Linked DNA regions of Homo sapiens: all the other regions are linked to region 1. The links come from fine-mapping of genetic effects on gene expression. A gene starts in region 1. Each other region holds a variant in brackets. All regions are shown on one strand. Distances are between the middles of the regions. Region 1 holds the start of L3HYPDH (trans-L-3-hydroxyproline dehydratase). Region 2 has its middle 32 kb from the start of GPR135. Region 3 has its middle 150 kb from the start of DAAM1. Region 4 has its middle 53 kb from the start of DAAM1. Region 5 has its middle 47 kb from the start of DAAM1. Region 6 overlaps RTN1 (reticulon 1).

Region 1 (5,076 bases):
TATGTGAAAATATTTCAAAAGCAAATAGATTTTACAAAATGAAATAAGATACAAACATAAGACTTACCCCACATTCTCCATATATTTCAGTTGAGCCATTTTTAAATAATAGGGTCTTCCCACAATAAAGTCCAAGGCATGCTGGTTGAATATCGACAGCTTTTTAAAAACAAATGCCAGTATAGTAACATCTTTTGTGATTATAAAAAATAATTGCAATAATAGCTGAAGCATTTGGCAAAAATAACAGTTTCAAATTTTTGAATAATATGTATTAGACAAAAGTCTTGAAGCATTTTTAAATTTACATTTCTCCTTTTACACTGTGACACTGCAGACAGTTATCCTGGAACCTTGCTGTTAATACCGTGCCTTATGATTAAGGTCCTCAACCAGCAGAGCAGGATCTATCTCCAGGACTCAAAGCCTAACCCGGTATGATTAGAGGATACTTCTGAGTTTAACTGATTATAAAGTTCAAATATACATATATTTTTAAATTAGAGCACCAGTAGAGGGTCACCACCTTGTATTTTGCCCAGTCAGGACATTAAGCACCCACATGTAGACACACAATTATCATTATCACCTATGTTCATAACAGAACACATTTTCACATGGGAAAAGCAGAGAGAACATAATTTCATAACAGAGGTATGCAAATTACCTTTATAAAAAGTTTCCTACATTGTCCTAGCTTTTATCATTTTTGTGGAGGATAAGTGAAAATTTCATCAAGGCTGTCACTGGGCCAATATTTTAGAAACCACTGCATTAAAATTAAGCCCCTGATCTAAAGGCTTAGGGGAAAAGCAGCTATTCCTTACTTAAAAAAACCCCAACAACTAAGAACCTAATACGTTGTCTTTGACCTTATTCACAAGAAATTATGGAAGTTTTCTTCATCAGTGACATCTGATTCCCTTCATTCATTCATTGATTAAAACAAACAAACAGGCTCGGTGAGGTGGCTCACGCCTGTAATCCCAGCACTTTGGGAGGTCGAGGTGGGCAGATCATGAGGTCAGGAGTTCCAGACCAGCCTGGCCAAAATGGTGAAACCCCGTCTCTACTAAAAATACAAAAATTAGCCTGACGTGGTGGCGCGCGCCTGTAGTCCCAGCTACTGGGGAGGCTGAGGCAGGAGAATCGCTTGAACCCAGGAGGCAGAGGTTGCAGTGAGCCGAGATCGCGCCACTGCACTCCAGCCTGGGCTACAGAAGGAGACTCCGTCTCAAAACAAACTGCGGTCTACATGTGAATTAATTTGAAAAATTATGCATCTTTTGACTATTCTTGAACAATCATTTCCCAAATTATTCACGAATTCACAATCTAGACTGCCTGGTCTACAGTGCCTTCTCTCCTTTCACATTCAAGCAGACTTTTTACTTCCTTCTCCTTATGCTGCTGAGAGAAAAAGAGAAACAGCATTGAATAATATTCCTCCAGTTTAATATTTTCGCTTTTAACAAATTTCGGACTTAGCTTTTTAAACCCACTGGCCTCTTTAATGGGCGCTTATTTTTTTTGTAACCAATTGTAATCACAATGTTCTAAATTAATACATGAAAATGAATATTTCAGGTTTTTCAAGAATGCAGAAGGTAAGGAATTGGAAACTTCTGTATGGGCTTTACATCTAGTAGATGCTTAATAAATACACGTGAATATCAATAATCTAAAGTTTCTCAAAATCCAAGGCCTGAAAACCAGTATGATAAACTGAACTGAAATAAACAGCCTATCACTTACTAAGCAAAACCCAGGCTCCAAGCGACTGTTGAATTTCTCCTTTCATTTCCTTTAGCGAACGATGGCTAAAGTTTTAAGATTCCATTTTTTTGCAGCGGTCCTGCCCTTTGTGACGGGCGCTATAAATCTACGTTTGAGGTTGAAGCAGTAGACAAATTATGCAGCAACTTGCTTCTGCTTTACTGTTTTTTCTGCACTATCACCCGCGTTTTCAATTCCGAAGTCAACCCTCAAGCAAGTGTTCCCTCGACATTAAACTAAGGGACTGAAGAGACATTTCGGACCAAACAACAAAGACCTGGCATTTCGCCGCAGACAGCGCGCCTCCCCTAGTAGCCCGTTGCGGACAGACCACCCCAACCCCGCAGGAGTGCGGAGCCCGGCCCGAGGGCGGGCGGGGTCAAGGGGCGAGCCTGCGCCGCCAACCGAAGGCCGCCTACAAAGAGCCGAGCCCGAGGCCAGCCGTGTAGGAAAGTAGTCGGGACTACCAGAAACGCTTCCCGGGATCTTGGCGACCACTCACCCATGGGCCGCCTGAAGGTTTTTTTCGAGAAGCACTAGATCAGCGGATCTGGCAGCTGCACCGAACATCCGGGCCACAGCGAGCTCGGCGGCTCCGCCTCCCGGTAACCCGGGCGACAGCTCCGAAGTTCCTCCCTCGCTTCCGGGTTTAGGCTCCGAGACCCCGCCCCCCGGACGTGGCTGGTTAGCGTCCCGCCCTCCTCCCGCGGAGTCAGTGGGTGAGGGTCGGGCTTGAAGCCATAGCTGCGGGACCGTACTCGTCTCCCCCGACGCAGACCATGGAGAGCGCGCTGGCGGTGCCCCGGCTGCCCCCGCATGATCCAGGGACGCCGGTGCTGTCGGTGGTGGACATGCACACGGGCGGCGAGCCCTTGCGTATCGTGCTGGCGGGGTGTCCGGAGGTGTCTGGGCCCACCCTGCTGGCCAAGCGGCGCTACATGCGCCAGCACCTTGACCACGTGCGGCGACGGCTCATGTTCGAGCCCCGAGGGCACCGGGACATGTACGGGGCGGTCCTAGTCCCGAGCGAGCTGCCGGACGCGCATCTGGGCGTCCTGTTCCTGCACAACGAGGGCTACAGCTCCATGTGCGGCCACGCAGTGCTGGCGCTGGGCCGCTTCGCTTTGGACTTCGGGCTTGTGCCGGCGCCCCCTGCGGGCACCCGCGAGGCCCGCGTCAATATCCACTGCCCCTGCGGGCTGGTGACCGCCTTCGTGGCATGCGAGGACGGCCGCAGCCACGGACCGGTGCGCTTCCACAGCGTCCCGGCCTTCGTGCTGGCCACAGGTAATGGGCGGGACCTTTCCAGCCCAGGGCAGAGCTGCAACCGGGACGCGACTAACTACATTAACGGTTTTTCTGGGCTGGAACTCTGGCAACTAACCTACTCCGCGAAACCTTGCAATTAATAGAAAGGTAAATCACTGCCAACGTGTGTCAGCAGCCTTGCGTATTTGGTGCGTGTAATTTCGATTTTCCCTGACTCCCATCCGCCTGTGGTTTTGGGAGACCCTTGAGGAGCGAGGAATTGCGTGTTACCCTGACTCAGCGCCTCCCTCTGCACTGGTGAGGCATTCCTAGAGATTTCACCGGTGGATAAAGCAAGGTACGGTGGGGTCAAGGAAAGAGCGAAGAACAGCCAATGTACCAGGGTTCCAGGCTGGCTGAGAATATGCTTGGTAGACACAGAATCACACTTAATAAGTTACTAAACCTGGTCTCCTTTCCTCACCTCCCCCACTTCTTTGAAGAATTAAATGAGAATGAATGAACAAAGCAGTTTATAAATCATTAAGATACGAATGTTGCTTTTCTTTAAGAACAGGAACACACATTGCCTGGTTTCAAATCCTGATAACCCCCTAAAGCTGTGCAACCTTAGGCAAATTACTTAATCTCTCTGTGCCTGTGTTTCTTCTTTTCCCTCATAGAGTTTTTTTGTTAGGATTAAATGAGAGTATGCAAGATACTGTATTCCTGGAGATAGATTGCAAGGTTTATATGATCGCTAAAGTTCCCTAGGCCTATTGAGCCATTAAAAGGTTTTGCTGGATTCTCTAGTACAGATCCTTGTACAGCTTATCATGTAAAGCAGGGCATCTCTATAACCATAACCCTTACAGGAGGGATGACCTGGCAAGCTGGCATCTGGTTTCTCATCAGACTACTACCTCCCAGGAGCTGAATTCTATCAGTAAGAATGCTTTAGTCATTGTGACTGGAAGTGAGCCAGGAGCCAGTTTACCAGGAATAGAGTTATCCTTTTCTTAAAAATCTTCAAGCCATGCAAATCATCTGTTAGAAAGTTGGACCTTGATTCCCCCTGAAGAACTAGGTTTCAGATTAGCCTGATTATGAATGATAACTGATAGAACAGGCACTTTTAGAGCAACCTTAGGCAGCTGAAATCCACGAGTTAACGAAGAATGCCTCTGGAGAAATTGATGCCATTTTCCCAGAGAATGGTGTCACTTCCAGACTGGGAGGCCACTTGAGGGAGACAGAATTTATGTTTACGATTCCATTTTTAAAACCTCAACAGTTTAACTAGCGTGGCTACCAGAATTCCCCCTAGGCAACTCCAGCAGCAGAGTAGAAACACTCTAGACTTCTGTAGGAAATGGCAGCTGGCAGCAGGAACACAAACTACATCTCATTTCTGGGTCAGTTAGGGCAGGGTCAGTCAACCACTTGACCTCAGTAGTTCCTCTCAGTAGTTCCTGAGAGCATCACTGTATGACAGTACAATGATTAGTGGGCATTAATGGTCACTGAGTTAAGAAAATGAAATGCTATATTCTCTACTTTGAAAAATGCATACAAGGCAGACATAGTGTTCAAGGTCACTGCCCCACCTCTCCCCATCTCAGTGACCTTGTGCTAGAGAGTCCATGCCTCAGTATCACAGTCTGCAAAATGAGGATGACAACAGTACCCACCTCAGAGGGTTGCTGAGTTCATCTCCACCCCACCAGGCTAAAATGCAAACTCTTTCTTGTTCACAGTATTCTAAGTGCCTAGAAGAGTAGTCAGTCAATGAATGTTTGTTGAATGAGTAACTAAATAAATGAAATTTGGAGAAGAATATGCTGATTGACAAATGTAAACATCTGGTCCTCTTGAGAAACCTATTGCCACTGGAAATTAAAGTTTTGGCTTTCGAGTCCCTAATCTGTGCCAGGAACTCCCCATACGTGGAATTTTCAAAACAACTCTTTTAGGAGAAATAGCAGTTACAGTTTGCACAAGACACCAAAGCCACACTAATGGCAGAACTAGGGTTGGAACCCTGGCCTATCA
Region 2 (5,076 bases), 51 kb after region 1:
CCATCCCTAATCAATCTTTGTGGCATATTGAGTTCAAAGCAACCTGGGGGCACCCCTGGAGTTGGGAGTGAAGTCAACCCCACCCAATGCAACCTATACAAAAGGAGAGATTGAAATTGATGTTGGGGAGATACTACAATGTCTTCTAAATTTATCTCCATATTTAAGGCCTAAAATTTTAGGAGCTAGTTTCATGTTTGTGACAAATGCTGGTAGCTGCCTTAGTGGCATTCTATTTCAATGGTAACAAGAAAGTTAACAACTCATGTTATGAAGAAATAGGATAATTCCTAGCGTAGTAACCCAAATAAAGTTAATTATCTTAATTATCTTAATAATCAGAAGATACAATAGCAGATTTATCTACTGCCATTTGCTGTGAAGCCCTTTGTACCACCAACGCTGCTCTGTTGTATCTTTAAAGAGCCTAGTGACTGCAGATCCCCTTCTGCCACAGTTATCATGTGACACTAAGTCATTGGCAGGCAGGGGAGTTCTTTTGAATTCTGGTTGTTTTTAGTTTAGTGCAAATTCGTAAGTCCAGATGAATTTTATCCCAGGGTGATGAACAAATATGGAGATGCTTTCAGAACTGCTATATATAATCTTCAAAACTGTTGGGGGGTAGTTGATGTTAGGAAAATGGAGACACCTCCTCATCCAGATTTTCAAAAGGTCAAATCCTATAAGATGATATCATGTCCTAGAAAAATTCAAGAGCTCATTTTAAACAGATGGTGGAAGAACATTAGAAAAGAAGTTATCGCTAGGAGTCAAAAAAGTAGTTCAGTAATTGTAAGACAGGCCAAATTATCCTCATTATTGATTTGTTGCATCTGGGGAATGCCATACCTATAATGTACCATGACTAGCATGGTTGGAAGTCCTCCAGCGCAGCCTTCTGAAGAGGCTGGAGAGATGCTGGCTCTTTATTGAACTGTGAGGTGGAGTCACAGCTGGCTGAACCAACACAATAACCTAAGTATCTATGTGGCAGGATATCTCTTTTAGAGTATCACAGCGTTTAATCCTTACATTTTTTTCTATAAAACATTTTTTATGATTACTTGGAAAAAGATACAAAAGAACATAATTTGGTGTAATTATTTCAATGAAGCTAATGAGATTTCCTGCCACACAGATGAATACAGAGCATTACCTTCATAACTGTTATAACCTGTTGTGGCAGATGACATCTGGAGTATTTGTCCTGGTCTGAGCAATACATTATAAAATTGGTTTAGAAAAATTTGCAGCAGAGATTAGTATGGCTAGATCTGCCTGGAAAATGACCTGTGAAGGAAAGTTAAGAAAAAAATGTATGTTTAACTTGGGAAAAAAAAAATTTTGGAAGCAGGGCCTGTGATACAGTTTGGATATTTGTCCCTGCCCAAATCTCATGTTGAATTGTAATCCCCAATGCTGGAAGCGGGCCTGGTGGGAGATGTTTGGATCATGGGGGCAGATTCCTTATGGTTTGGTGCTGTCTTCACCATCGTGAGTGAGATCTGATGATTTAAAAGTGTGTGGCACCTCCCCCGGCCCTTGCTCCTATTCTTGCCATGTGATGTGACTGCTCCCCCTTTGCCTTTCATCATGATTGGAAACTTCCTGAGGTTTCCCCAGAAGCAGATGCCACTATGCTTCCAGTTGACAGCTTGCAAAGCCGTGAGCCAATAAATCTCATTTCTTATAAATTACCCAGTCTCGGGTATTTCTTTACAGCAATGCAAGAACGGTCTGACATAGCCTTATACTATCTTCACGTGTTAAAAGAGGACGGGATTGGGCCGGGCGTGGTGGCTCACACTCTTAATCCCAACAGTTTGGGAGGCCAAGGTGGGCAGATCACCTGAGGTTGGGAGTTCACAACCAGCCTGACCAACATGGTGAAACCCCGTCTCTACTAAAAAATACAAAATTAGCCGGACATGGTGGTGCATGCCTGTAATCCCAGCTACTCGGATGGCTGAGGCAGAAGAATCGCTTGAACCTGGGAGGCAGAGGTTGCAGTGAGCCAAGATGGCACCATTGCACTCACTCCAGGCTGGGGCAACAAGAGCGAAACTCCATCTTAAAAAAAAAAAAAAAAAAAACCCAGGATTTTTTTTTTTTTTTAATTTACAGATGAACGATGAGTTGATGTCAGATTAAGGTCAGAGTTTTATTCTATATAAATTAACTGTCTAATGAATAGGTTGAACAGGGAGGGTATAGATTCCCATTCTCTAGGGATATTCAAGTAGATGCTGTAGAAGGATTCTGTAGGGCTGAGTTAGATGACCTCAGAGAGATACTCTGATGTGCTGTGGTTTGTAAACATGTGTGGCATATTTTAAAAGCATATTGTAATTATATTTTAAGCCATACGTATGTAATCTTGGCAAGAACATTGTTTCTTCTCGAGTCATTCACATGCTAATAGGCACTCTCTGAAACACAGTCCTATGCCAGTTGGAGCCTGTGGGATGTGGCATATACTGGGACAAGAGAAGGTTCCAAAGCTCTTATATTAGGTGAATACCAACTCTATCTGGATTTGTCATTCTAAAAGCCATCAGGAAACCATGTTGCTGACTCCTAAGGATTATACGTCTTTTCTTTTCTTTTCTTTTTTTGAGACGGAGTCTTGCTCTTTCGCCCAGGCTGGAGTGCAGTGGCGCGATCTCGGCTCACTGCAAGCTCCGCCTCCCGGGTTCACGCCATTCTCCTGCCTCAGCCTTCCGAGTAGCTGGGACTATAGGCGCCCGCCACCACGCCCGGCTAA[T/C]TTTTTGTATTTTTAGAAGAGACAGGTTTCACTGTGTTAGCCGGGATGGTCTCGATCTCCTGACCTCGTGATCCGCCCGCCTCGGCCTCCCAAACTGCTGGGATTATAGGCGTGAGCCACTCCACTCCGGGCCATACGTCTTTTCTAAATGCTCCCAAACCACTGTTTAACAACATCCTAAAGACTTTCTAGGCCATGAGAGGTATCATGTTCTGGAATTCGCCTTTTTGAAAATCAGTGTCTTCACTGTTCTCACACGTCTACTATAAATAAGGGGAGTAATTTAATTCCTATTATATGTATGTGTATGTATATGTACATATATGTGTATTTTTATATGTGTGTATATGTATCTATAGGTATATATATTTATGTATAGCAGTAATTACCTGTTTAATGAATGAATGGTGATGATTTAAATGTAAAGGGAATGATGCCAGAGGTTATGAAAAAAAGCTGCCTTCAAAATATGAAATAGAGAAAGAATAGAGAAATGCATGCCAAGCTCTAAATAATTTATTGTAATTTACTTGGTTCTTGGTTTTCTAAAATGGAAATAAAGAGATAATATTGAGCTTAACTCTTACTGAGACTATGACAAACGATAGACGTGCTTAATACATTTTCTTTTTTTGGGGGGCGGGGGGGGACAGAGTCAAGACTGTCACCTAGCCTGGAGTGCAGTAGCGTGATCTCAGCTCACTGCAGCCTCTGCCTCCCATGTTGAAAGGATCCTCCTGCCTCAGCCTCTTGAGTAGCTACAGGCCACCGTGCCTGGCTAATTTTCATATTTTTATTAGTGATGGGGTTTCACCATGTTGGCCAGGCTGGTCTTGAACTCCTGGCTTCAAGTGATCTGCCCATCTTGGCCTCCCAAAGTGCTGGGATTGCAGATGTGAGTCACTGCACCTGACCTAAAAATAATTTCTAATATGAGCTTTTTTACTGGCAGAGTACAAAAAAGTTAATTATTAGAGATTATACAATGTCTCGCTACGCGAGTTGACTGATTTTTTTGTTTTTGTTTTGTTTGGTAAGCTTTCAAGTGCACAGTCTACATAGAGTTTATAAGAAGTAAATCTTGCTTTCAAATTAGTATTTCAATAAAATTAGACACAAGAAAGAGTAAGCTATTGCTTCATCATATTTTCCCCTCTTTATTTTCTTCTCCTTCAATTAATTTCTTGTTGCTATTGTAACAAATTACCACAAATGCAGTGATTTAAGACAACACATATTTATTCTTCTCTTAAACTTTGGAAGTCAGAAATCAGAAATGAATCTTATAGGGCTAAAATCAAGGTGTCAGCAGGGCTGATTCCTTCTGATGGCTTCAGAGGGAATATTCCTTGCCTCACCCAGCTTCCAGTGGCTGCCAGTTTCCTTGGCTATGGCCATATCATTCCAATATCTGCTTTCCTTAACAAATTCTCTTCTCCTCTCTCTGAACTCCTCCCTCCTTTTTGTAAGGAACCTTACAATTACATCAGGCCCACCTGCATAATACAGGCTAATCTCTCATCTCAAGATCCTTAACTTAGTCACATCTGCAAAGTTCCTTTTACCATGCAAGGTGACATATTCACATGTTCTGAGGATTAAGACATGGACCTCTTTGGAGGACTACCACTCGGCCTACCACAATATAGAACACGTATTTTTAAAATAACATATCCTAAATCACTTTTTGAAGTGAGGTAGGTACATGCCATGATCCAACCAACCAATCATTTCTCATTGATATCTCCTTCTTGCTTCCTCTGCTTTATCACTTAAATGCCTATCTAGTTCAGAGGAGGTATGAACTTAAAAAAAAACAAAACAAAACAGTAGGTTCATTTCCAGCACTGAATACTTCATTGATTCATGATATTAACTCAAGTAAGTGCTTTTTACTGGATTAGAAGGAGGGAAGTTGAACTTCACCTGTAACCTGACATTTGTCTGAAGGGCACACTGCCATCACTAGAGTGATGCATGAATCAGTCTGAACAGGGTGAAACAAGTGACATCCAAGTTACAGTTGAACACAGGATTTCGAGAGATCATCTTTTTAGGATTAAAATATTATTATAGATTTTTTATTCTGAAAAAGTTTTTGATTCCCATGCAGTTGTAAGAAATAATACAGAGACGCCATGTACTTTTATTTTATTTTATTTATTTATTTTTTTTGAGATGGAGTCTCACTCTGCCGCCCAGGCTGGAGTGCAGTGGCACAATCTTGGCTCACTGCAAGCCCGCCTCCTGGGTTCAGGCCATTCTCCTGCCTCAGCCCCCTGAGTAGCTGGGACTACAGGCGCCCACCA
Region 3 (5,076 bases), 450 kb after region 1:
CAGATCATATTAGAAAGTTTTTTCAGAAAATCAATTTTTGTATTAATGGCCAACTGTCACTGCTGTACCTCAGAGTCTTTCTCCAAGGCTCAAAATATCATTGCCCCAAGCAGATATACTATGTAGGCAATTATTAGTATGCCTTTGTGGATTTATCTCTTTCTTATACCCTGGAATGAGGGTCAGAAGAATTCGCATCACTTTATGTCCTCCCAAAAGAAACCCAATACGACAAAGCAAAACAAAATTTTCAGATAGGCAATGTGAATTCCCTCATATTTATTAACATACCTTTAGACAACTATACAAAAGAGATCAATTCCTAGTCATGGAAGCAGAAAAATGACTCCACTTTCCCTCTAACTATAAACCTCCTATTCTTAAAAAGATGATAAACTGTGCTATTTTTGTAGATAGAAATATATTGGAGGGTCAAAGCTGGCCAAGTGGCTCAGTTGTTTATTCAGCCTCCGTGGAAGAAATTTTATCACGGAGTTACATGTTGGAGTATGTCAACAAATATTTTTAAAAGAGTACATGTTAATGCTTTCATTTTCTGATAAAGTAGATTAAGTTAGACCAAACTCTACCAGTTACTAGTGGTGTAAACTCAGGCCAGTTATGTATCCTTGCTGCGTGGATTAGTCTGTTTTCACACTGCTATAAAGACACTATCCGAGACTGGGTAATTTATAAAGAAAGGAGGTTTAATAGACTCACAGTTCTGCATGGCTGGGGAGGTCTCAGGAAACTTCCAATCATGCCAGAAAGGAAGGCATCTTCTTCACAAGGTGGCGGGAGAGAGAAAAAGGCCCAGGGGAAACTGCCATGTATAAAACTATCAGATCTCATGAGAACTCCCTCACTATCACGAGAACAGTATGGGGAAAACTGCCCCCATGATCCAATCATCTCCCACCTGGTCCCTCCCACAACACCTGGGGATTACAATTGAAGATGAGATTTGGGTGAGAAAACAAAGCCTACCCATATCACTGTGTTTCAGATCATCACCTGTAAAATGGAGATTAAAAATAGCTACTTGGAAGAGTTACTATAAAGATTGAATTGATATATTTGAATGCTTAGAGTAAGGTATAGCAAATAGAAAATGCCCAATAAATCTTAGCTAGCAGCCAAAGAACTGGTAGTGTTTGCAGCAGTAGCAATAGTAGTAGTAGCAGGAGAAGGAAGAGGAGTATCCACTCTGCCTTCCAATTCCTGCACCCCTTTGCCTTGCAAAGCGTGAGGCAGAAAGAACAAAATAGTTGTTGGTATGATTAACAAGATTCTTCTCTTGAGGAGGCCAGGTTCTAACATTAAGAAAGGTGAACAGCTTGTGTGTGTCATATGGCTCTGGGGCAACGCTTTGAGGCAGGGATTCCCGACTTGAAAGTAGTAGTGCTCTCAACTCGACTCTGCCTCCTCACAGCCTCTTCCACTTTAGAGAATGGAGCAAATCTCAGTAGCACTCAGGTGAACTTTCTTTCCCAGTGGGGATTTTAAGAGTGAAAACACATGGTTTTATGTTGTATGTGATATTCAGAACCTTAAGACATCATTACAAGAACAAGCACATTTTGCTGGGCGCAGTGGCTTATGCCTGTAATCCCAGCACTTTGGGAGGCCGAGGCCGGTGGATCACTTGAGGTCAGGAGTTCAAGACCAGCCTGGCCAATATGGTGAAACTCTGTCTCTACTAAAAATACAAAAATTAGCTGGGCATGGTGGCAGGCACCTGTAATCCCAGCTACTTGGGAGGCTGAGGCGAAAGACTCTCTTGAACCCAGGAGGTGGAGGTTGCAGTGAGCCGAGATCACACCGCACATTTTAACACCTGTGATCCCAATCCCAACACTTTAAGAGGCTGAGGCGGGCGATCACTTGAGACCAGGCTGGCCAACATGGTGAAACCCCATCTCTACTAAAAATACAAAAATTAGCCAGGCATTGTGGCCCATGCCTGTAATCCAGCTACTTGGGTTGCAGAGGCAGGAAAATTACTTAAACCCAGGAGGCAGAGGTTACAGTGAGCCAAGACTGTGCCACTCACTGCACTCCAGCCTGAGCAATAGAGCGAGACTTTGTTTCAAAAAAAAAAAAAAGCACATTTTAAAAGCAATATCCTTTCAATAACTAAAATCCACCCATAGTAAATTATACAATTAAACACGTTATAGCCATAGTTATTGGTGTACATTTTCAGTGTAAAATAATACATTTAATCAAACTACCAGTCAATTCAGAATAACAGAAAAACAGTACAGCCTCACCTGAGCAGCCATTTTAGTTTCTACCAGAATAATAGTATGCTTTTATCTATTATCTTCTATGTCAAGGTTTAAACTAACAGTAAGTCTTGTAACTGAAAAAACAATAGATACCTGCGTTAAACCCCCACAGAGTATTTCTTAGGTTCCTCTGGCATCAATAAAACACTTTGAATTAGGGAACAATCAAATACTAGGTTGGTGCAAAAGTAATTGCGGTTTTTGCCATTACTTTTAATGGCCAAAAAAACACAAAAAACAACAATAAAAAACCTCACAACCCGCAGTTACTTTTGCACGAACCTAATACTTTCAGGAACCATTAGAAGAGCATTCAAAACAAAAGCATCTTTTTTGGCAATATTCTACAAGAAGGTCTTTGTTGATCTGTTGGGGCTAAGACACTACACTGGGAAAACACCAGCATTTGAGGGTTTACTTTTCAGTAGTCATACCATTAACCTAAGGCTGCTCCACACCATTCCTGTCAACAAAGACCAGGCCCCCACTCTAGTGAAGCCATTTCAAAGTAATCCTACTGCAA[G/A]ACTGAAGGTTTTGATGATTCAAACCCATGGTACAGCTGGTCAGAAATGGACATTTTGAGCCTGTTGAAATGATCCTATCACCATTCCACAGTTCCATCTGGAACCTTGAGAATGGCTACTTCTACACACAGTCGTCTCCCCATTATTACCACATCTCTCCAGTTCGTGTGGCCCAGCAACTCCAAGCCTGTGATTCACAATCCTTCTGCATCCAGATTTTCCTGAATTGCTGCATTTTTGCTGTGATATCATCCAGCTCAACCTTCCTGGTCTACAGTGTCCCATGACCCTTTTCCTGGCAAAGATGTGGCTTGCCTCCTATAGCCAGTGAATCTCTTTATAGCTCTTTTAGGTTGGCGCAAAAGTAATTGCCCCTTCAGACTACTCACTCATGCTCAATATCACACCAAGTATCTGTGCTTAGCTGTGTTCTTTCCACCCTTCTCCACTTGCTGAAATACTCTTATAACCTTCCAGAAGTGGCTAACTTACATTATCTGTGATACATTCTCTGATCTTCTTTAATGAGAAATAAGGTTCTCTGCTAACTCAGTTATAGCACTTATTTGTACTATATTAGAGTACAATCCCCTAAAGAAGATCTGGGTAGACTATCTTATTCAAGACTTTATACCTCCTTCAAATGCATAATAGTGCTTTATATCCTCAATAAATGCTTCTTGGATGCAATTGAATAACTTACATATAATTTATATTATTGATAAGCTTTTATATTTTTCCCCTCTAGATTAAAATATTCAGAAGCAATATAAAATGTTGCAAAAATTGCGGGCTTTCGAGTTTTTCAGCATTGGGTTTGACTCTTGGCTCAGTCACAATCTATCTTGTGACCTTGCATAGGTAACTTCTTTGAACCTCAGTTTTCTTATCTGTAATGTAGATTTCATCATATCTGCTACACCCCAATCATTTTAAATTCCTGCTTAGAATGCCTGAAACAATAATTTCTCAATAAACAGCTTTTATGACTTTTATAACTAGTAACAATTATCTTTAGGCAGAAAGAGTCTTCATGGCATATTTTATGGTAACTTCCCCATAGAGTTTATTTAAAAAACTTTGTTGAGTGAATGAAAAATATGGTAATGCCTAAACTTGGAGCCTGAGTCTTGGCTAGTAGTTTCTGGGAATTAGTCTGTGAGAAACACGAATGGGTCATTTCCTCTTTTCTTGAATTTCAAGAAACTAAGTGAGTTTCTTCTTTTGCTAATTTGTCCTTTGCTGCTGTGAACTAGGAATGGGATAGTTATATATTTTGAGTATATATAACTAAAAGAGTGTATCACTAAACAGTCGAGGAAACTGATATGGTTTGGCTCTGTGTCTCTACCCAAATCTCATCTTGAATTGTACTACCATAATTACCACGTGTTGTGGGAGGGACCCAGTGGGAGATAATTAAATTATTCTCCCATACTGTTCTATTGGTGGTGAATAAGTCTCATGAGATCTGATCGTTTTAAAAATGGTAGTTTTCCTGCACAGGCTCTCTCTCTTTGCCTGCTGCCATCCATGTAAGACATGACTTGCTCTTCCTTGCCTTCTGCCATGATTGTGAGGCCTCCCCAGCCATGTGTAACTGTAATTCCATTAAACCTCTTTTTTCCCAGTCTCAGGTATGTCTTTACATACTAGTATAGAAATGCTGGCGCTGTCCCAGGTTCCAGGTTTTCATTAACATGAGCAACTCTAAACTTGGACCAATCTTTATGGCTATTCCCTACCATGTAGAAGGAGGCTACAGTGTCCCCATATTCAAATGACTGCCCTAGTAGCAAATTACTCTGGTGGAGCAAAGCAGAAGGACACTTTTGATTTGGCAGTGTTACCTGCATTGCAATGCTAGGATACACTGGAGGGTGACATGAGTCAAGCTTGTTGCACATGAAAGGTTCCACATGCTTTGTGTGCTATGCAAAAATTTGGAACTCTAAGGAAAAAAAATAACATGATTATGCTATTTATCTTGTAATAATAATAACAAAATGGAGAAAGAGGAGGAAGAAGAAGGAGGAGGAGAAGAGGGGGAGGAGGGGGAGGAGGGGGGAGGAGGGAGGAGGAGAAGAGGAAGAAGAAGAGGAGGAGCAGGAGGAGGAGGAGCAGGAGGAGATGAAGAAGGAGGAGGAGGAGGAGGAGGGGAAGGGGAAGAAATGCTTTGTTGAGTGCTTGCTATGTGCCAGGTACTGCCCTAAACATTTTTCTTGATGGAACCTCTGTTGATAATCATAACACCCTATGAA
Region 4 (5,076 bases), 350 kb after region 1:
TCCTGTTATTTGACTTTATGGGATCTCCTACCTATTGATCTCTGCATTAACCCTACCTGTGAGACGCTGTGTCTTTACCTTTCTCTTGAATTTGGCTTAGATTTTACTGCCCATTGTTCCAATATCACTCTTGCTCACTCCCTTGTCAGTCTTCTTTAGTTGCACCTGAACTGATGAGTGGTTCCTAACTGCTGCTGCACATTACTGGGAAACTTCCTCAGAACACAAATGTCCTGGCCAACCATCAGGTTTATGGAGCCTGGAATCTTAGGGACATAGTCCATGCATGTGTGTGAGTGTTCCCAAAAAATTCCCAGTGTGATTCTGACACAAATCCCAGTTAAATAACCACTGATCCTAACCAAACCCTCTGTTGGCTAATCTAGCTATTTTGTCATCTCTGTGATTGCATCAAGCAGCTGAGAAGTGCTGGGGCGCTATCACACACAGGTGCCCATTGTCACTACAGTTTCATAGTCACCAGCCTCAACTGGGCACTCCGTGCTGCCCGTGCATCCTACCAAGTTTCTTTAATTGACTGGCCCACCACTCTCTATAATTGCCATTTCAAACCTTCCACACTCTTTGGCTTCTCTTCTCTTCCTCTCAATTTCAGCAGATGATTTTTTGCTTCCTAAGTGGGAAATTCACAATTTATTGCAATACAATTTATAAACCTACTTGTATTAGCACCTATTCTCTTCTCTCCTGTTCCAGTGGAGGAGGAATCTCTTCCATCTAAAGTGAATCCTTTCATGTGTTCTCTGGATCCCATTCCTCCCCACCTCCCCTAATAGACAAGAAGCAGAATTCAACTAATCTATACATTTAGCTTATCATCTTGACTTCTTAGGGCATTTTACACAGTTTACTCTGTCCTTCTTGAGCTCGTCTGTCCTTTTTCCTTAGCTGTTGTGATAATATACACTCTCTTGGTGTCTTTTGTACCTTGCTGTCCCTCCTCCAAGTCTTTTTCTTTTTCTTTTTTTTTTTTTTTTTTTGAGATAGAGTATCGCTCTGTCGCTCAGGCTGGAGTGCAGTGGTGCAATCTCAGCTCACTGCAAGCTCCGCCTCCTGGGTTCATGCCATTCTCCTGCCTCAGCCTCTCAAGTAGCTGGGACTACAGGCACCCACCACCACGCCCAGCTAATTTTTTGTATTTTTAGTAAAAATGGGGTTTCACTGTGTTAGCCAGGATGGTCTCGATCTCCTGACCTTGTGATCCGTCCGCCTCATCCTCCCAAAGTGCTGGGATTACTGGCATGAGCCACCACACCTGGCCTCTTCCAAGTCTTTCTTTACTGGTTTTTCCTACCTAATATTTAAATATTGAAGTTTCTGTGCATGTTTCTGGGAAGGGGTCTGGGAAGCACTGCATCCATGGCCAGCCACCTCATGCTCAACAATGGCACCAAGATGGCCATCCTGGGACTGGGCATCTGAATGTCCCCTCCAGGCCAGGTGACCAAGGCTGTGAAGGTGGCGATTGATATCAGGTACCGCCACATCCACTGAGCCCAGGTACGAGAATGAGAATGAGATAGGGGTGGCCATTCAGGAGAAGCTCAGGGGGCAGATGGTGAAGCGTGAGGAGCTCTTCATCATCAGCAAACTCTGGTGCACATACCATGGGAAGGGCCTGGTGAAAGGAGCCTGTCAGAAGATGCTCAGTGACCTTAAGCAGGGCTACCTGGACTACTACCTTGTTCACTGGCCAGCCAGCTTTAAGCGTGGGAAGGAATCCTTCCCATTGGATGAGTCAGGCAACATGGTTCCCAGTGACACTGACATTGTGGACACACGGGTGGCCATGAAGAGCTGGTGGATGAAGGGCTGGTGAAAGCTACTGGCATCTCCACCTTCAACCATCTCCAGGTTGAGAGGATCTTAAACAAACCTGGGTTAAAGTATAAGCCAGCAGTTAACCAAATGGAGTGCCACCTGTGCCTCACACAGAAGTTAATCCAGTACTGCCACTCTAAAGGCATTATGGTGACTGCCTGTAGTCCCCTTGGCTCTCCTGACAGCCTCTGGGCCAAGGCTGAGGACCCTTCCCTCCTGGAGGATCCCAAGATCAAGGCAATCATAGCCAGGTGATCATAGCCAGGCGATCCAGGTTTGGATCCGGTTCCCCAGGCAGAGGAACTTGATGGTGATCCCCAGGTCTGTGATACCAGAATGCACTGCTGAGTCACAGACTTTGAACCAAGCAGCCAGGATATTACCATCTTATTCAGCTACAACAAGAACTGGAGGGTCTGTGCCTTGGTAAGCTGTGCCTCTTATAAGGATTACCTCTTCCATGCAGAGTTTTGAAGGGGTGGATGCCTGCTCATCCCCAGTGACCTACACTTGTTTTTCCTGCTCATTTTTTTCTTGCAAATATAGCATGGCCTGTGTCACTCAGTGGTGGAACAACAACCACTAGACTGAGCAGCCAGGGCTTTTCTAGCTTGATGTTGGGTCTGAGGAGCAGTGTCAGTAGAGTAGAAGTCTATTCCAGTTTCCTCTGCCCTCTTTTTTGCCCAGCTGGGGAAAGTGTAGTGTGCATACCCTTTTTTTGACCAAGGAGAAGCAAAATCTACAAGGTCAAAATAGTGCCACTAACAGTCACGTTTTGACTGCTTGTAACTTTTCAGCAAGACTTCTCCTTGCCTAAAAAAAAAAGTGCTGTTGTGAGCTTAAAAAAAAATTTGACATTTCTTAGGCTGTGTACTACCATTTTAACTTCCACTCCCCCATTTTCTTCAAACCTCCATCTTTGTATTATTGTGTGTGTGTGTGTGTGTTCAGTTATAGGAATTTGGGTGTGCAAAAGTGTAAATTTCTTTTTAAAACATTTCTCATAGTCTCATTTCT[G/A]CCGACAGTAGTAACTCAGTTACTTTGGCTCAGGGTTTCTCAACCTCAACACTCTTCACATTTTGGACAGGATAATTCTTTGTTGTGAAGGTTGTCCCACATGTTTTGGGATGTTTAGCGGCATCCCTGGCCTCCACTCATAAGATGCCAGCAGCCTCCTGCCCTTCCTAGTTGTGCCAACGACAAAATGTCTCCAGATCATATCAAATGTCCCTGGAGGTGTAAAATTGTCCTTGGTTGAGAACCACTGCATTTACCTTAAACTCAGTCTCTTTGGGGGTACCTAGTCATTTTGTTTCACCTCATCTTCCTTTTCCTTCCCATCTCCCTGGGAGTGGTCAGAGGCTCTGGAGGACTTATGCATAACCTTGACATTCTCAGAGAAACCTTTGATCTGCAATTACTTCTCCACTGGCATTCACTGTTGCTGTCACTCAAAGCCTGTTCTCACAACAGGCTCACTGCAGGACCATTGCTCTGCTGGGTTTTGGCGTCTCCCCTGTTGCTTTCCCATAGTTCCTGCCTCAACATTGGCCGGTGGCTGTCTAGCTTCTGAAACTCAGCAAAATTTTTCCGTCTCAACTCTGACTGTGGCTGCCCATCCCACAGCCTCTACTGTGAGAATCTCCCTTTCTCTTCTGCAAGTTGATATTTTAGTTCGCTCTGTGCTCACTCAAGTCCCTGATCACTTGCAGGGGCTCCTTCAAGGTGGCATCTGTGTATGAGGTGGGGTCTCATCTCCTTTCTCCTTGAACCTGACTCATCCTTTCCATTTTAGTGCAGCTACTCCATGTTGGCATGGGGTGCCCTGGAAGGCAGCTTCCTCCCAGCAATTCAGACACAAAGTCCTCTGCTGTCTTGTCTTCCTGCATCTTCCTGAAGGTTTCCATCATCCCTTCTTTTCTAGGGTTTTGGACCCAGAGGGAGCAGCATGTGGAACCCTCTTACAGAGACCACATCACTAACTCCCTTTAGCTGGTTGACTCCCCATGTTCTCTCCAGCTCCCTCCCTCAAGTCTTCTTATCATCTCTCTATATTTTGGGACGAGTTCTTTTGCAATCAGAGATTAGACTTTGTTGTAAAACACTATGTTCTGAGTGCTTCATGTATTTTTCCTTCTGGAGCTTAAGAAACCTTCCCCCAACCTCCTTCAAATCTGTCTCTGCCATAGGCCTAAAACCTATTTTGGAACTCAACATAGGCTTTCGAGCCCATTATTCGATTCTTTCGTTCATGCTGGGATTTTTGGTGTTCCTTCTTCATTGGGATAATAAGCCCTAGCGTTAAGGTTCGGTAGAAACGACAGAAGTACTGGACAATAAAAAGAACTTGCCAAGAAGAAAAAATATATAAACTATTATTCCACTACCTATGACTGATTGTTTAACTTTTGCACTTCCTTTTGCGAAAGCCCTGTTCAGGGCTCACCAAATATTTCATTTCCATCAGAGCTTAATCTTTGCAGAGGAAGAAGTTAATACTACCTATTGCTGACTTTGAATGGGAGTTTGGGGATATGAGGGTCACAGAGAGATGATTACTGCCCCCTTCCTCCAAACTGTGGAGCTGACCACGCCATAAAACAGTTTCAGTCATCAGGAATGAGCTTTGAGAGGAACCACTGGTGTAGAACTTTCAGTCTATGTGGACATAACCAATAAAAAATTTGGAGGGGGTGTAAAGTGTATGTATATGTGTTTAAAATGTTATTGGCAAAGCCTGGTTGTTTTACTGCCAGTAATGGTCATTCATTTTTTCCCCTATAATTCTATTCAGCTTCATTCTGGACTGATTCAAATAGGAAGCCGACACGATGTCAACCAAAAATCATTTTAATCTCCAAGTCCCATAAAACAATATAAAATACTCATATAACTCACTTTCCTGGAATGAAGTTTATAGCAACTAAAGTGCTTCCAATTTTATTTTTAGAAACTGGTTCATGCATTTTACATTGAATTAAGTCTAGTTCTTTTCTGTGACAGTTGGAGAGATATTTTAAATCTCAGCCAGTGGGCAAAGCATAATTTGTTTCTGATCTACATTTTTGCTTTGAAGAAACCATCAACTCTATTAATAAAACAAATGCTGTTTTCTTTTCCTTGAGAATCCACAACCTGCACAGCCTCTGCTTGACAATCTGAGACAAAATAAATGTGATAAAATGGATTTTATATTACAATGAGCCAACCTGACATGGAAGTCAAGGGACTGGT
Region 5 (5,076 bases), 340 kb after region 1:
TATACCCAAACTACAAGACAAATGTGCTGCAAATATTTTTTAAATTTAATAGTTAAAATACAGACATATTTTGCATATTACCTTAAAACAGTTTCTCCCGTGACCAAATTAGTTCAAATCCTCGTGAAGCAACATCCATAAACTCATCCAGACGTTTTTCAAAAGCTCCTTTTCATTTCACTGTAATGTACATTTCACTGTAATGTACAACCATAATGCAATAACACAGGTAGAAAAATTTTAGAGCTGTTAAAATTGATAGCAGCCATTTCATGTTAGGGAAAAAGAAATGAAGTGGAAGGCCAAGGTGTGGCTTGTTATGCCATACCAGTGTATACTTGGATTTCCCAAAGAGCTGATTATATAGAGAAGGATGGGTAAAGCAGAAAAAGGCATTTTTAAGAGGGCTCATTGGCATCACCTATGTTTGATTTGCGCTGGATGTACCATGCAAATACTTAATGATGTTTATTTATACAGAAAAGAAAAACTAAGTTTTCCAAATGGCCATCAGTCATGTAGACTCTTTTCCCCCAGGGTTATTATTTAGGAATGAAAGTCTGTTTTAGTTCTGTTTGGTTGCAAATACATCTATTTGATCAATTTGCCAATGCTGTCATTCTTTTGGGGGTGGGGAGGAGGTGAGGGTGGCGGGAAACATTGCAAACCCTGCAAAGGTGTTTTAGCAGTAGCCTTTGGGACTTCTTTTTTGTTTTGTTTTTGAGATAGAGTTTCGCTCTTGTTGCCCAGGCTGGAGTGCAATGGCGAGATCTCAGCTCACTGCAACCTCCACCTCCTGGGTTCAAGCTATTCTCCCGCCTCAGGCTCCCAAGTAGCTGCGATTACAGGCATGTGCCACCATGACCAGCTAATTTTGTATTTTTAGTAGAGACAGGGTTTTTCCATGTTGGTCAGGCTGGTCTCGAACTCCCGATCTCAGGTGATCTGTCTGCCTCGGCCTCCCAAAGTGCTGGGATTATAGGTGTGAGCCACCGTGCCCAGCCTGCCTTTGGGACTTCTTTGGAAGCCACATGCACTGAGTAGCAGTCTCTAGTGAAGCAGCATGAGATTATGGGAAAGGGTACTAGATTTTGTTCAAGTCCTGGCTCTGTTCCTATCTGTGTGATGTTGGGCAAAGCACTTTCTCTTTTTGAGCTCACATTTTATTCTACCCTATCTGTAGGACTTTGATGTCTGCCTTCTTAAGGCCATTCTTTAAAACATCTTTTCAGAAAATTTCTCTCTCGATTCTTGTATCCTCCTCCCCCCACTTTCCTTTCTTCCTTCTTTATTTTCTTCCCTTCTCTCTTTTCTTTCCATAGGTTTTATTAATTTAGCACAATTTAAGCTTTGTATCATTTGAGAACATGGTAAAGATTTTCATTCACTTTAGTCTTTCATAAGCCTGGGTATGGTATTATATTTCTCGGGTAACCACTAAATTATAGAAACAAAAGGTACAACTTACTGAAGTAATAGAGGAAAAAAGTTCAAAAAATAAGAACCAAAATAGATTTGGGGGGGAAATTGTTTATTTTAGTAACTGTCTGATCTTTTTCAACTTTGGAGATGGAATAAGTTAATAATTTGCTTAACTTAAAAAACTTTTTTTTCTTCCTGGCTTCCTCCCTCCCTTCCTTCCTCCCTCCCTTCCTCCCATTCACTCTTCTTTCCCTTTTGTTGTTTTTTCTTCTTTCTCATATTGATCTCTTTTGCCACGTGCATGCAAAGCAGCCCTTTTGACTGCTGTGCAGATGAACAGTTATTAGAATGTAGTTCTGTGATTATACCATATAGTCAACTTGTAGAGTTCTTAGTTGATATAATGCCTAGCCAAATAAGTTTCAGAAATAAAAGATAAATTGTCAAAGGAATGAGATTAATTGAAAACCACCATGATTCTGGTTGCATGTATTCCCACCCTATCTTTTCAGTCACAGTATGTACTCATTTCCAAAAGGTAATCAAGATCCGAAATGTTCATATATTTGTTATAAATTTTAAAAGGACTTAGCTATTTCTCACAGGATTACAAGCACTTATTGAGACACTAGCTCATCTTTCTTTGCTCCACTTCCAAATAAATTTCTTGCACACAGCTCTGCAGTCATAAATCATCCCGAAGATCTCAGGTCTGGAGTCTTCAGAGCTGTAGATCATCACCTGAACATAATTCTCAAATCTCTGGGCACCACTCTGCATATTCTAGCCCCATGTTACTTTGACCTTTCCTTTGATGTCCAGAATTTGTTGTCTCCACGTGAACATGCTCAGTGATTTTCTGTTTTCATTTTTGGAGAGGAAGGTGTATTAATGTATTCACAGACAATTACCTTTCTCTTTCCTTC[T/CGTTT]TTCTCTTTCCTTCCGTTTTTTTTTTTTTTTTTTTCTGAGACAGTCTCTGTCACCCAGGCTGGGGTACAGTGGTGCGATCTTGGCTCACTGCAACCTTCACCTCCTGGGTTCAAGCGATTCTCCTGCCTCAGCCTCCTGAGTAGCTGGGATTATAGGCACACGCCACCACACCCGGCTAATTTTTGTATTTTTAGTAGAGATGGGGTTTCTCCATGTTGGTCAGACAGGTCCTGAACTCCTGACCTTGGCCTCCCAAAGTGCTGGGATTACAGGTATGACCGCCCTTGGCCCTCTTTTTCTTTTCTTTTCTTTTTTTTTTTTTTTTTTTTTGAGATGGAGCTCTGTCACCAGGCTGGAGTGCAGTGGTGCAATCTCGGCTCACTGCAAGCTCCGCCTCCCGGGTTCAATTGACTCTCCTGCCTCAGCCTCCCGAGTAGCTGGGACTACAGGCATGTGCCATCATGCCCAGCTAATTTTTGTATTTTTAGTAGACATGGGGTTTCACCATGTTGGCCAGGATGGTATCGATCTCTTGACCTCATGATCTGCCTGCCTTGGCCTCCCAAAGTGCTGGGATTACAGGCACAAGCCACCGCGCTCGGCCTACATTTCTTTTTCAGTAATAATTTCTATTCATGAATTACTATGAGGCATCCACTGTTTTGGCACAATCTTTTAATGAACTTAGAGTTATAAAACAGATGAGCTAGAAGGGGTCTTAAGAGACCCTCTGATCCAGCCCTCTGCCTTTTAGCATTCGTCATAGCCTTTTCTCTTTGGGAAAATTGGATGATTTATTTGTTTCTGCCACACCTGATCAGCATGCAGTTTAGTGCAAAAAAAGTTCAAACTAGTTTAAGAAGAAGTGGGCTTTGGTCAGAGGAAAGGCCATATACTTTATGTCAAAGGAAATGGATGTTGGGAGTAGATGAGCATATATCACAGGTCTGAACAACATGTTTCCCCAGGGTGGACTGGAATTCCAGTGGTTCATGATCCTGTCAAACTCAAGTGGTTGAGAGAAATGGGCTCCAGATTTCCTCTGTTACAACAGAAACTTGCAGATACTAGTCCGTGTTAAAATGAGAAATAGTAGGACCTCGGTTTTCTCTTTTGTAAATTATTATTCAGGAAGGAAAATAAAGATTATTGATCATTGGGTTACAGCTTCAAAAGGAACAGGTGTTCTGTGGAGAAATCAGTTTGATTTTGTGTGGAAAAGCAGACCATCCCGGGAGCGATGGTGCTAATACCTGCTAAGCCACGTGGTAAAAGAAAGCAAATTCGTTAGCCATATGGGATCAGTCAAGGGAATCTGATTGTTTATAAAGGTCTTGGTGTCAGTCCAGGACTATTTGATAGGGTCTCTAGTACCTGACGCTGAGGTCTTTTATGCATTTCTTGCACATTTACCATCTGCTTCAGCCTGTGTTTTTGGAGTTAATTTATTTCACATGGAAGAAACCTTAGAGAGCATCTGGCCTCTTGTTGGCCTATTAATGTACCTTTAAGGGCCAGAAACTGATGTAAATGTGTAACACTGCTAGGTATAGAAGAGAGAAAGTGGGGGACTAGGCTGGACTGGAGGGTGATACACCCACACACACACACACACAATGCATGTCTAAGCTTGTATGGAGCCAGATTTGAACCATAGGCCACAACTTAGCAATGATTAAGCCTCTAATCCCCTTATTTTATAGACAGAGAAACTGAGGTCACCTGTATGGTTGATGGCAAAGCTGGGAATAGAATCTCTGTCTCCCAACCGGGAGGTTTAGGGGATTGTGTATAAGACGTATGTACAAAACACAGTCATGAGAGCATGTTATCACCCCAAAATACTGTCACTTGGTGTGGCTGGTGTGCAGGCTTCAGAGAGAGAGAGAAAAGTGATAGGAGAGGGGCTAGAGATGGAGCCAGCGGCTGGACCCTGAAGAGTCTTCTCTGCCATTGAGTTTGGACCCAATCCTGGGAAAAAAACCAAAACAAAACAAAGCTCGGGAAGCCACTAGATTTTAATATAGAAACTTGTCCCTGAGGGAATGCTACAAGGAGGGACTACTTCACCATTGGCCAACCCCATAGAGTGTGACAGGCGAAGTCACCCTTAGGCCAGGCTAGGAGGCCAATTTTCAGAGGGTGTTCTCTTCTCTTCACAGACTTTGTTCAGCCCCTCAGGCCAGTGCACAGGCTCAGTCTCCACTATGCCAGCGGAGTTAGACACTGAACCCAATGCGCAAGCAATCTTCCTTGCTGGTAGTGTTGGGCAGAAGGGCTGCTGGGGGATGAGAATATCACAGATCATAGCTAATATTCTTGAAATTAGAAGCAGACAACTTTAAAGATTCATTGGTCTTAAAGAGATGATCTATCTAAATAATTTATTATCCAGAGGTGAAAATTCTCCGAATTCATTTTCTAAGGATCTCATTATTCAAAGTGTTCTTATTGCCTCCATCCTAAAATAATGTTCTTTTTTAGGGATAACTTTATTTACTATAAGGAGAATTATAAAAGTAAATTTACAGGAAAATGGCAAAGTATGAATTGTATAAGAATGTCACAACCTCTGTCTCTTATTTAGTGTTACTCTCTTGCAGTTTGGATGACAAGAAACCATGGCTTAAGGTAAAGTGATTAAAGGTTCCCCAGGAGCTCCAGCTGTCAGTGTAGGGACAGCCTTTCTCATCATGGATTTTCTCTTTCCATACTTAAAATGTGTTC
Region 6 (5,076 bases), 200 kb before region 1:
AGAACCAAAATGTCACTCCCCTAGGTACAAATCAAATTGCTTCTCCTTTCTTTTGCCTGCACTCTTAAATGCTGAATAACCTCATAAGTAAGATTTCTATTAGGCAAATTAGTGCATGCGTATTAGGAACCACAGTTTCTGGAGTGGAGTTCAGTGGGACTAACTATATTCCCTATGATTAGTCACTTTAATCATAGAATTATGAGGAAACTCATAAATTATCAAATCATATTCTCAAAGCCTTTTTTAGCAATGCTTAACCATGTGCTCTGTAAGTATACATTTGATTTTGTTCCCTAGAGACAATTGTTTCTGTTTTATGAAGTGTGAAACATTACTCATTGGCAATTATGAGTAACTTTTATACTTGTTAAGTTTTATTGTTGTGTTAATGTAAACAGAAACACTTGTGTTTGTTTCCATTTGTTCAATACACATTTATTAGGCATCTACTTTCGCCAGAAGCTGGGAGATACAAAGATGACCATGAGTCAGTTCCTGCCCTCTAGCAATTCAAAGGAGACATAGGTATAAACTTCAACAGCAGGAAAGGCAAGTGGAATCCTTCTGTGGGGGCAGAAGTAGTCTATCTACCCAGCAGCCAGCACAATGCATGGTATAACATTGGATGTGTAATAAATCTTGTTCAAATAAATAAAATAATCATGAGAAGATGTACCAGAAATAGTAATGCCATAAGGAAAGGAAGACAAATGGAGTTGAACCTTGAGCTAAGTCTTGAAATATGGAGCAGGTGAGAGAATTTCAGTTGAAGAAAAGAATGTGTGTAAAGTCCTCAAAGGGTGAAATAGCATGTGATTTCAGGGAATTAGGATAATTCCATTTTTCTGGAAAGTATGTCAGTGGCAAAGCCATGGGAGATGAAGATGGGGAGATGGGAAGGAGCCACATTAAAAAGCACATGCTGGATCTTCTAGCTTCTTAAAGGGTAGCACCATGATCAGATTTATGTTTAGAAAGATTTCTCCATGAGAAGGACAGATTGGTAACCAAAAGGATAGTTAGAAGATCACTAAAAAAATCTAGTGAGCAGTGACGAGGGTCTAAACTATAAACTAAAGCTGTAGCAGCTGAGAGGATGAATTTGGGAGAGATTTGGAAAGTAGAAATCAAGGTTTGAGGGTAGGGGAAGGGAACAGTGAGACAGAAACAGGAATCTGGGATGATCCTTGTGTTCTGATGTGATTAGCTGGATGAAAAAGAAGGCTGCTTAGTGGAACACGATCTGAGAAGGTGATACAGGGAAAATGAGTTCATAGATGCCTAGGAGACATTCAGGAAGATTTATTTAGTAAGCAGTTAGTGACCTGAACCTGGAACTCAAGAGCTAGGTCCAGGCTGGAGATTCAGAGCTGGTGGTACCCATGTCTGGTGGTAACTATGAGCATGAGTGAGAGAGCCCAGTGGAGAATACAGAGTATTAGTGACCCAGATTCATTATTTCCCAGTGCCTACTGCAGTGTGTGGTTTGGGGATGGAATTGATATGACACTCATCATTGATAATCATTATTGGAGCTAGAAAAAAGGGTTGAAAAAATAGTATGGAGAACATTTTGGCATTTTCAAATTACCATTTTTTAAGATTCAGAATGATTTTCTATTGAGAGACAGTTACTCATGGAATAAAACATATGAATCAAGAACCAAGTAAATTAAAAGCAAAGTAACTGACTTGTTTTTGTTAGAGGAAATATATGTTCATATGTCTAAATTAAGAATTGTTCATAGCAAATAATGCTTGGTAAGTTTTTGTTGGATTTGTACATGTGGAAATCTAAGATGTATTTAATAAATATGGAAATAATAAAATAGATTTGTAGTTTTATGAGCACTTAGATGAAAAGAGAAGCAGAGAAAAAAGAGAAAATGGGAAATAGAGATAGACACACACATACTATTAATATAGAAACTTATAAAAGACAAAATAACTGTAATCCATAATTCAACCACCACTGTCAAAATTTCAACATATATTCTATTATTATGTCTGTACATATTTTTGTATACTTGTTATGTTGGCTGTATAAATTCATATACTTCTTTTTTTAACTTGATATGATAAACATTTTCCCAAGTTATTAAAAACTCTTCATAAATATGGTTTTTCATGACAGCATAAAGATGCCTATCACTTTTCAGTTACTTAGTTACACATTCTCTATTGTTCAACATTTAGATTTTAGCTTTAAAAAACTTTAAATACCACTCCATTGAGTATCTTTGTTTATAAGGCTTTGTGTTCATTTCAAATTATTTTCTTGAGATAGATTTCTGGAAATAGAATTACCATACTAAAACATATGAACATTTTAAGGCTCCTATTGCCAAATTGTGTTTTAGAAAGATGATACAAATGTATACTTCCATCAGCTTTATGTGGCAATGCCTGGACACACTAAATAATACAGCATGCTATAAAGCCTTGTATTTGGGTTCATTGGGAAATTGGTAATTGGCACTAACCTTGTATTTTATTCAGTGAATTCACTGATTAGCTCAAATTAGTAAAGATAGACTTATTGTAAACAATGACAACTATCTCCTTTTTTATTTAACTTTTATGCAAAATAACTTTAAAATGGAATTCAAAACACACTTCCCTATATTTTGCATGGTTTCACTTGGAAATACTTCTCCAGAAGGAAAGAAATGCTTCTCTAACTGGTATGGAGGGAAAGAGGGATTGCTCTTTCCTTTTTAGTACTATTAAGCAACAATTGTCTATTTTGGAGGAGGTTTATGACTTCTTTCAAAAACAAAGTATCCCATTTTTTCCCCAGAGCAAAGC[T/C]CTTAGAAGGCAATAGCTAAGAGCTATGTTACTAACATGATTGTTCTAGGAGGAGCACTGCTCAGCTCCCATGGCAACAGGTACCATGGAAATAGACACACTTTGTCAGAGGTATTGTAAATGCTATTGGGTATGAGGGCAGTAGTTGCAGTGAAATTTCATTGTTGCTATGTTGTAGAGGTTGCACAACACACCAAGCCTTATTTAGATTCTGTTGATAAGTCTGACCTGGTTTTTAAGAAGTTCTATTTTTTTAAAAAAGAAAAACAAACCCCAACCCCCAACCTGTTAGACCTAAGATAAAATGAGAACAATTTGCAAGGTTCAAATTGTTCTGTATGGAAGCTCTGGAAAATTATATGCAAGTCTGTATGGAAGCTCTGGAAAATTATGATATTTCAGAGAACTGTGAACTTTGAAGTGTCTGTGGCAATAAGTGATAGGTTGAGTGTGAATAACTTAAATCCAGAAGTCATCCCCAGACTTCATTTGAGCTAAACAGTTCAGCTTCTTCTCATAGGTCAGGTCACTGTTAATTTTTGCAGTGACAATGATTAACAATGAAATTATTAAGAGTGATTACTAATATAACACCTGTTTTGTACTCTGCTGTTTTACTGTTCAACCCTTTTTAATAACCATTAAAAGGTACCTATGACTAGTACTATAAGCAGATTCATCCCACAGTTGGGGAAATTAAGGCATAGAGAAGAAATAAAGACCTCATGGTCTTAGCTGGAGAGAGGTAGAGTCTGGATTGAGAAAAGTTAGAGCTCCAGTCTCTAGCCTTATTTTACAAACATTGATACAATGGTAAAGATGAAACCTAAGTCAAAGGGTGTATGGGTTATCATTGGTGGCTCTGTTTGTTTAATAGATAACTCAATTTAGCAGAGAGGGCTGTACTATTGTTTCATTTCAGAGCACCTGTGCAACTTCTGATGCTTAAGAGGGAAATTGAGAATACTTCTCTAATTCATACCCAAGCCACCCTAACAATTACACATGATAATACTCAATACAAAATGTCAAGTTAGGGATTATCTTGGCCTTTTTCTAGTAGATTCCTACCTGTTCCCAGTCTTTTCCAGACACTGTCATCCCTCACAATCCAATCTGTCACTCTGCCAGGAGCCAAGAGGATTCAGATGCTATCCCTTGCTTTTTGAAATCACAGTTGAACTCAAGAACCCAACAGAGTTAGATACTAAGACCCTGCACCTGTATCTATGGTCCTTAAACTTATATGTGCATAAGAATTACCTGGATAGCCTGTTAAAAATGTACATTCTCAGCTTCCCATTCTGACTAAGTAAGCCTGGGGTGAGGCCCAGGAAGCTGCATTTTTAACCAACTCCCCCAGTGCTTCTGAAGCAGGTGGTCTGTGGTCACGCTTTGAGAAACCTGAAGATCAGCATGTCAGTCTGTTAAAGTCTCTTCCACACCAGTGAGCCTAAGGACAATGGGGACAGTGGAGGTTGAGGAAGGGGCAGTAGTGAGAAGGGAGGCCTGTACCTCTGTGCCTGGGAGCCCAGCAAGGAACCTTCAGCTCTTGAGGTCCCAACATGTGCTGTGGCCCACGCTGGACCTCAGTATGTGGGAAAAAGCAACCAGCTTTCAGAATTCACAAAGGATGAGGCACAAGGTAGAGAAACAGGGATGCTGCAATCTGCAATCTGAGTGCGCTGGCCCCTGAGTCAGTAAGAGTTGTCTGTAGATACCTAAATGTTTAAATCAATTTTCTTCTCTCAGACAGTGGAATCCAGAACATATATTAAAAAGAGACCACTTCCAGCCTGTAGGAAAAATGAAGTTTTGTAGCTCATTGATGGCTTCTTTCTTGCTGTTAGGAAGGCCAAGCCAGAGAAGCTAAAATGATTGAGCTAGGCCATTTTCGCATTAGCATTCAACCCTTAAATAAAACTTTGGAGAAAAGACCCCTTTTCACATTCCCCACGCACCCCTACCACCACTGCCTAAGCTTTGGCAGCCTTCCAAATCCTCCAGACCCCAGAACAGGACTTGTCCCTGGGCTTGTTTTCCAGGGTTTATATGACGCCCTTGTTCCCTTCTTGGCAATTCAAGTGAAACTCACCATCTCAGGCCACAGCGTGGTAGTCATTGTTGTAAATAGCTTTGACTATTTATTTTTCTAAAATGCCTAGAATAGCATTTAGATGCCAAGATCCTGGGAGTGAGAAAAGAATGTTATTTTTGTAAGAAAGACTATTTTAGGGGACTGTTCTAACATTAAGAGACAGAAAT

Evidence for each region. PIP is the estimated chance that this variant, and not a neighbour inherited with it, causes the effect.
Region 2: its variant is fine-mapped to the expression of L3HYPDH in whole blood (INTERVAL, PIP 0.95).
Region 3: its variant is fine-mapped to the expression of L3HYPDH in whole blood (TOPMed, PIP 0.98).
Region 4: its variant is fine-mapped to the expression of L3HYPDH in vagina (GTEx, PIP 0.99).
Region 5: its variant is fine-mapped to the expression of L3HYPDH in monocytes after interferon gamma (Fairfax 2014, PIP 0.95).
Region 6: its variant is fine-mapped to the expression of L3HYPDH in tibial artery (GTEx, PIP above 0.99).

What each region holds. Positions count from the first base shown.
Region 1 is chr14:59,481,796-59,486,871 of GRCh38, reverse strand. L3HYPDH (trans-L-3-hydroxyproline dehydratase) reads left to right here and starts at 2,464. Exons shown (of 5, transcript NM_144581.2): 1 at 2,464-3,063. The coding sequence starts at 2,556. JKAMP (JNK1/MAPK8 associated membrane protein) reads right to left here and starts at 2,355. Exons shown (of 7, transcript NM_016475.5): 1 at 2,279-2,355; 2 at 68-159. The coding sequence starts at 2,282. RefSeq lists an enhancer at 2,110-2,389.
Region 2 is chr14:59,430,691-59,435,766 of GRCh38, reverse strand. No RefSeq gene overlaps it. Among named protein-coding and RNA genes, the nearest start is that of GPR135, 32 kb to the left of the region's middle. The variant T/C (reference allele first, on the strand shown) is at 2,768.
Region 3 is chr14:59,035,226-59,040,301 of GRCh38, reverse strand. No RefSeq gene overlaps it. Among named protein-coding and RNA genes, the nearest start is that of DAAM1, 150 kb to the left of the region's middle. The variant G/A (reference allele first, on the strand shown) is at 2,815.
Region 4 is chr14:59,132,726-59,137,801 of GRCh38, reverse strand. It overlaps the pseudogene AKR1B1P5. Among named protein-coding and RNA genes, the nearest start is that of DAAM1, 53 kb to the left of the region's middle. The variant G/A (reference allele first, on the strand shown) is at 2,860.
Region 5 is chr14:59,138,894-59,143,969 of GRCh38, reverse strand. No RefSeq gene overlaps it. Among named protein-coding and RNA genes, the nearest start is that of DAAM1, 47 kb to the left of the region's middle. The variant T/CGTTT (reference allele first, on the strand shown) is at 2,349.
Region 6 is chr14:59,677,910-59,682,985 of GRCh38, reverse strand. The region is part of intron 3 of RTN1 (reticulon 1); the gene reads left to right. Among named protein-coding and RNA genes, the nearest start is that of MIR5586, 33 kb to the right of the region's middle. The variant T/C (reference allele first, on the strand shown) is at 2,812.